Regions from separate parts of the Homo sapiens genome. Here region 2 is linked to region 1. Evidence: fine-mapped expression QTL. A gene starts in region 1. The other region holds a variant in brackets. All regions are shown on one strand. Distances are between the middles of the regions.

Region 1 (2,906 bases):
CAAGGGAGATAAAGGACACTGGAGAGCACCCTAGAAATGACAGGATGAAGGCGATGGTGACAAATATCCGAGCGAAACGCTTGACAATGAGAACAGACAAGTGCAGGTCTCCAGGAGTGCCGCGAGCGCCCGCGGGTTCTGAGAGCGCTCAAAGCCGCCGAGTCAGGCTGCCCAGCCCGCCGGGCCTCGCCGCAGTGATCCTCATTCCCGAATCTGGCAGCGCTGTCAAAGGCTTGTATTAGGAGGTGAACGGCGGCCGCAGGCCCACTCCACGCGGTTGCTGAAACCGAGCTGGGCGCGCGCGGGGGCCGAATCTCGCCGCCTCCGCGCTCCTGTCGGGGCAGCTCCCGATCCCGGGCTGCGCGGCTTCGGTCCCCAAGACGGCCACTTCCAGCCCTAGGCCCCTTGGCCGCAGCGCTTCCCAAACCAAGAGAGATCCTTTCTCAACTCAGAGCTTTTCATTAGCAGTCGTTAATAATGGCCCTGAGTTGCCTTATCATCTCCTGGAAATGAGAAATAAATTTCTTCGGAGAACGTTTCCCTTTGTAAAGGACAGAGAGTTTTAAAGATACAGGTATGATGTAAGACACATAAATACCTAGGTAAGCATTAGCAGAAATTCTCTTTTCCTTATATTTAAGTATAATAAACATACAAGTGTAGCTCAATGAATTTTCACAAACTGACATTCTGTGTAACCAGCAGCCTAAGAAACTGCTTTACCAACGATCCCCTAGCTCGCCTCCAGTTATGCACGCCAATAACCACTAGCCTAACTTCTACCACATGCCCATTACTTCTGTAGTTTAAAACTTCTGATTCTTGAATGTAAACGTTTAACAATAAATCGCTTGAATTTAACTCAAATTTCAAATGTAAGATGAAGTCAGAGATGCAGCCTGAATCTAGGATCATAATTTGTCTTGTGCGGAGGGCGAGTAATTTCCTTGGGCAAGAAAATAACTGGAGGTGACAGTTGTTTGGGGCTGCAGTCGTCCGGGCCAGGAGCACAGGGCGGGAAGGAATGGCCCATCTCTTAGGGCTCTCTGCTTGTCACCTACCAGGTTGGTCAGAAACGTTCTCATCAAAGCAATGGTTCTCTTTTCTTTTCTCTTTGGGACAGAAGGAGTTTCTTGACCGCCCTCTTCCCTGCAAATGCATAAACAACCACTGCTCCTGTCTCCAAGCTCAGATTCCTACCAAGATAGCCTTTTCTCTTCCCCTCTCTTTTGTAAGTCTCTTGATTTCATTCTTTGAACCTGTGATTGGAGGTTAAAGTGCACCAGGTTGGAAGGAGGAAGCTCTTAACAATAAAGGTTTGAATATTTAGCTGTGTCAGGTCGCTGCCCTCTCACGAGCCTCCCTCCCCTTTATCTTTTAAAATGCAAATTATGTTTCGAGGGGTTGTGCGTAGAGTGCGCGCTGCGCCTCGACGTCTCCAACCATTGGTGTCTGTGTCATTACTAATAGAGTCTTGTAAACACTCGTTAATCACGGAAGGCCGCCGGCCTGGGGCTCCGCACGCCAGCCTGTGGCGGGTCTTCCCCGCCTCTGCAGCCTAGTGGGAAGGAGGTGGGAGGAAAGAAGGAAGAAAGGGAGGGAGGGAGGAGGCAGGCCAGAGGGAGGGACCGCCTCGGAGGCAGAAGAGCCGCGAGGAGCCAGCGGAGCACCGCGGGCTGGGGCGCAGCCACCCGCCGCTCCTCGAGTCCCCTCGCCCCTTTCCCTTCGTGCCCCCCGGCAGCCTCCAGCGTCGGTCCCCAGGCAGCATGGTGAGGTCTGCTCCCGGACCCTCGCCACCATGTACGTGAGCTACCTCCTGGACAAGGACGTGAGCATGTACCCTAGCTCCGTGCGCCACTCTGGCGGCCTCAACCTGGCGCCGCAGAACTTCGTCAGCCCCCCGCAGTACCCGGACTACGGCGGTTACCACGTGGCGGCCGCAGCTGCAGCGGCAGCGAACTTGGACAGCGCGCAGTCCCCGGGGCCATCCTGGCCGGCAGCGTATGGCGCCCCACTCCGGGAGGACTGGAATGGCTACGCGCCCGGAGGCGCCGCGGCCGCCGCCAACGCCGTGGCTCACGGCCTCAACGGTGGCTCCCCGGCCGCAGCCATGGGCTACAGCAGCCCCGCAGACTACCATCCGCACCACCACCCGCATCACCACCCGCACCACCCGGCCGCCGCGCCTTCCTGCGCTTCTGGGCTGCTGCAAACGCTCAACCCCGGCCCTCCTGGGCCCGCCGCCACCGCTGCCGCCGAGCAGCTGTCTCCCGGCGGCCAGCGGCGGAACCTGTGCGAGTGGATGCGGAAGCCGGCGCAGCAGTCCCTCGGCAGCCAAGGTAAGCAGAGGCTGCGCCCCTTCGGAGGGTGCTTGGGAAGGCGCGGGTCGAGCCAGTGGCTGCTGCGCGTCGCGCGTCCAGTGCGCACAGGGGCGTCCCGGGCTGTCTGGGAGCTCGGCGCCAGGAGGGGCACGGCCCGGAGACAAATTCGGGGGCCTCTGGCCCGTCGGGGCTTCTCTGACCTACTGAGCCTGGGAGTGAATATTCTGAGTCTCAACACCGTGTTCAGGCGTCCTCTTTCCAAGAGCTCCTCATTCGCAACCCCGGGACACCTTCGGGAAGCTCCGGGGAATGTCGGCGTGAGCACTGCTGGACGCCGGCAGAATCGCGTCCTCCGGCACTTGCTGCGGCATGCATTCCTTGCGTGGCTCCTGGCCGCCGAGGAGAGAGGGAGGCTCGAACCTTCTTGGGCTAGGTCTAGGCCATTTATCTCCGCTCTCTCTTTCCCCATCTGAGCCATCTAAGAAGAGAAGTGACCTGGGGGGGTCGGAGGATGGCTAGGCTGTGTGTGGGACCGGGTTTGGCCACTCGGGCCAATTCAAGGTACAGCGAGCAGGCAGACCAGGG
Region 2 (2,906 bases), 29 kb after region 1:
TCCGGACATCATTTTCTTGGATATAGGGCAGAGCTGTGGTAGTAGCAGCAGTTTTTAGACCTATGCATTACAACCATGGTGATATGACCTTGAAGCCAAAAGCCTCGTGCTGTGCCTTTCAATAATCTTGTGAATACCTAATCTCCTTTTGCTTGAAATGCCTTGAGTGGTTTCTGTTTTCTTTACTGAACTTTTTCTGATAAAATAAATAAAGATGCAATCACCACCCTTTAGAAACTTGCCATCTCTTAGGGGAGACAGACAATGCAACTTGAGTAAGAATATGATAGAGGTACAAAGGGACAAGGTGTTATGGGATTAAAGAGTAAGAACATAGAACAGGGAAGGGGCATTTCAATTATCTGTTACTGCATAGCAAACCACCTCCAAAACTTAGGGGTTAATTATCTCTCACATTTTGTAGATTAACTGGGTTCAGCTGGGCAGTTCCTTTGCTGGCTTCATATAATTGCAGTCAGATGATGGCTAGAGCTGGGATGAGATGCTGGGATGAGATGCTGGGATGCCTGGGCCTCTCTTCTCAGGTGTTCTCAGGGTTTCTTTTCTCCATGCAGTATCTTCCTGTGAGGACATCGTGATATAGTCTCTCCAGCGAGGCAGCTGGGTTTTTTTATTATTTTAACGTGGTGGTCCAGGATTCCCAAAGCACAAATGTGGAAGATATGAGGCCTTCTTTGATTTTAGGCTCAGGCTGGGCATAGTGACTCATGCCTGTAATGCCAGCACTTTGAAAGGCCAAGGCAGGTGGATTGCTTGAGCTCAGGAGTTTGAGACCAGTCTAGGCAACATAGTGAGAACCTGTCTCAACAAAAAAAGAAAAAAAAAAATTAGCTGGGCATGTTGGTGTGTGCCTGTGTTCCCAGCTACTTGGGAGGCTGACATAGGAGGATCACTTGAGCCAGGGAGGTCAAGGCTTCAGCGAACTGTGATTGCACCGCTGCACTCTAGCCTGGGCAACAGAATGAGACCTTGTGTCAAAAAAAGAAAAAAAAGATGTTAGGCCCGGAAGGGGCACAGCATCAGTTTTGCTGCAGTTTACTGGTTAAAG[T/G]GAGTCACAGGCTCAGCCCAGATTCATTGTGGGAGGGGAGGACATAAAGGTGTGGAAACCAAAAGGCACAATTTATTGGGGGCCATCTTAGAAGGTAGACACCACAGAGGGGTACTTGGGATGTTTGGGAAGTTTCACAGAGAACATGAAACTCATTGGTTCCATGGTTGTGTGCTCACAGACTTTACAGAGGACCCAGAGCCCAGTCCAGATCCTAGTACAGTTACTCAGTACATTTTATTATTATTATTTTTTTGTTACATAGATGAGAGGTTTCTATGTTGCCCAGGCTGGCCTGGAACGCCTAGCCTCGCCTCCTTATGCACCAGGACAACAGGCCTGAGCCACTGCGGCTCTCCACTCAGTACATTTTAAGAGAAGGCAAGACAGAAGAAAAAAAAGGCAGGCAGGCAAACATAGGAAGTATAAGCTGGTAGGCCCTTCCAGTCAGAGGCACTAAGGCAGGGGTGTCCAATCTTTTGACTTCCCTGGGCCCCATTGGAAGAAGAATAATTGTCCTGGGCCACACATAAAACACACTAACACTAATGAAGCTGATGAATTAAAAAAGAAAATTGCAAAAAAATCTCATAATGTTATAAGAAAGTTACGAATTTGTATTGGGCCACATCCAAAGCTGTCCTGGGCCACATGTGGCCACGGCCAGGGATTGGACAAGCTTGTACTAAGGCATCAGGGAGTGATTGCAAAATGCAGCTACCAGCCCCCAGGGCTGAGGCAACAAAATAAAGAGGTTGTAAATATGAAAATGTAGAAGCTTGAAGGAGGGGCTCCACAGAGCTGGGACTCACACCGCTGAGAAGGGGTTGCTGGCCAACTGGTGTTGATATCTTTGAGGTGGTGCCGATTCGGAAGAAACTGCAAACCAGAATAAACTGCTGCTAATGGAATAAATTGCCACTACCGGGAGAAACACGGCCTGGCTCGCAACTGAAGCGAACTGGAAGCAGAAAGGAAGAAGCAAGTTCTTCCACTGGCCTTGCACCTTGAAGCCTCCCTCCTGGCCCGTGCTGAGTAGCAGAGCCTGACCAATAGCCCGTTGCCAAAGGAGAATGTCATTTTCAGCGCCTCAGCCCACTTCCAGCATCACAAAGAGTGGAAGACTGACTCTGAGGCTGAGATTAAGAGTTTAACAATTAGGTTGGGCGCGGTGGCTCATGCCTGTAATCCAGCACTTTGGGAGGCCGAGGCGGGCAGATCACGAGGTCAGAAGATTGAGACCATCCTGGCTAACACGGTGAAACCCCATCTCTACTGAAAATACAGAAAATTAGCCTGGCGCAGTGGCGTGTGCCTGTAGTCCCAACTATTCGGGAGGCTGAGGCAGGAGAATCGCTTGAACCCGGGAGGCAGAGGCTGCAGTGAGCTGAGATTGCACCACTGCACTCCGGCCTAGGCGACAGTGAGATTCTGTCTCAAAAAAAAAAATAAATAAATAAATAAATAAAAGTTTAACAATTATATCTTGTTTGAAAAGCATTTAACATGAGTTTTACCCTGGCCCTCAGTCTCTCTCTCTCCTAGCTCAACTTTCTCTCTCCAAAATAGATGTGAGTTGGTTTCTAATAAAAGCACATGATGAATAGAGCGCTAAAAACAAAACAAAAAACCAAATGTTTAACACAGATAAAATGAAGATCACACCATTCCAAGCAGTGTTTTTAAAGCAGTGTTTTCAAAACTTTCTAACAAAGTTACAAAGTCAAAATATATTTTGTATTTTGATCTGTTAGGCATATGCATGTATAACTAAAAAAAGTTACATGAAGCAATCTTTATCCTCGCTGTGCATAATGCACTCTGATATTTTCTATTA

Which allele goes with the higher level. Positions count from the first base shown, and alleles are read on the strand shown. Sizes are in standard deviations (SD) of each study's normalised expression.
As copies of T replace G in region 2, the expression in pancreas of the gene that starts at base 1,490 in region 1 goes down (small effect, 0.34 SD a copy in GTEx).

What was found. PIP is the estimated chance that this variant, and not a neighbour inherited with it, causes the effect.
Region 2: its variant is the best candidate, but not a certain one, in a credible set for the expression of CDX2 in pancreas (GTEx, PIP 0.52).

Annotation. Positions count from the first base shown.
Region 1 is chr13:27,967,899-27,970,804 of GRCh38, reverse strand. It overlaps CDX2 (caudal type homeobox 2), which reads left to right and starts at 1,490. Exons shown (of 3, transcript NM_001265.6): 1 at 1,490-2,339. The coding sequence starts at 1,799. RefSeq lists an enhancer at 1,564-2,255.
Region 2 is chr13:27,939,014-27,941,919 of GRCh38, reverse strand. No RefSeq gene overlaps it. Among named protein-coding and RNA genes, the nearest start is that of LINC00543, 13 kb to the left of the region's middle. The variant T/G (reference allele first, on the strand shown) is at 1,070.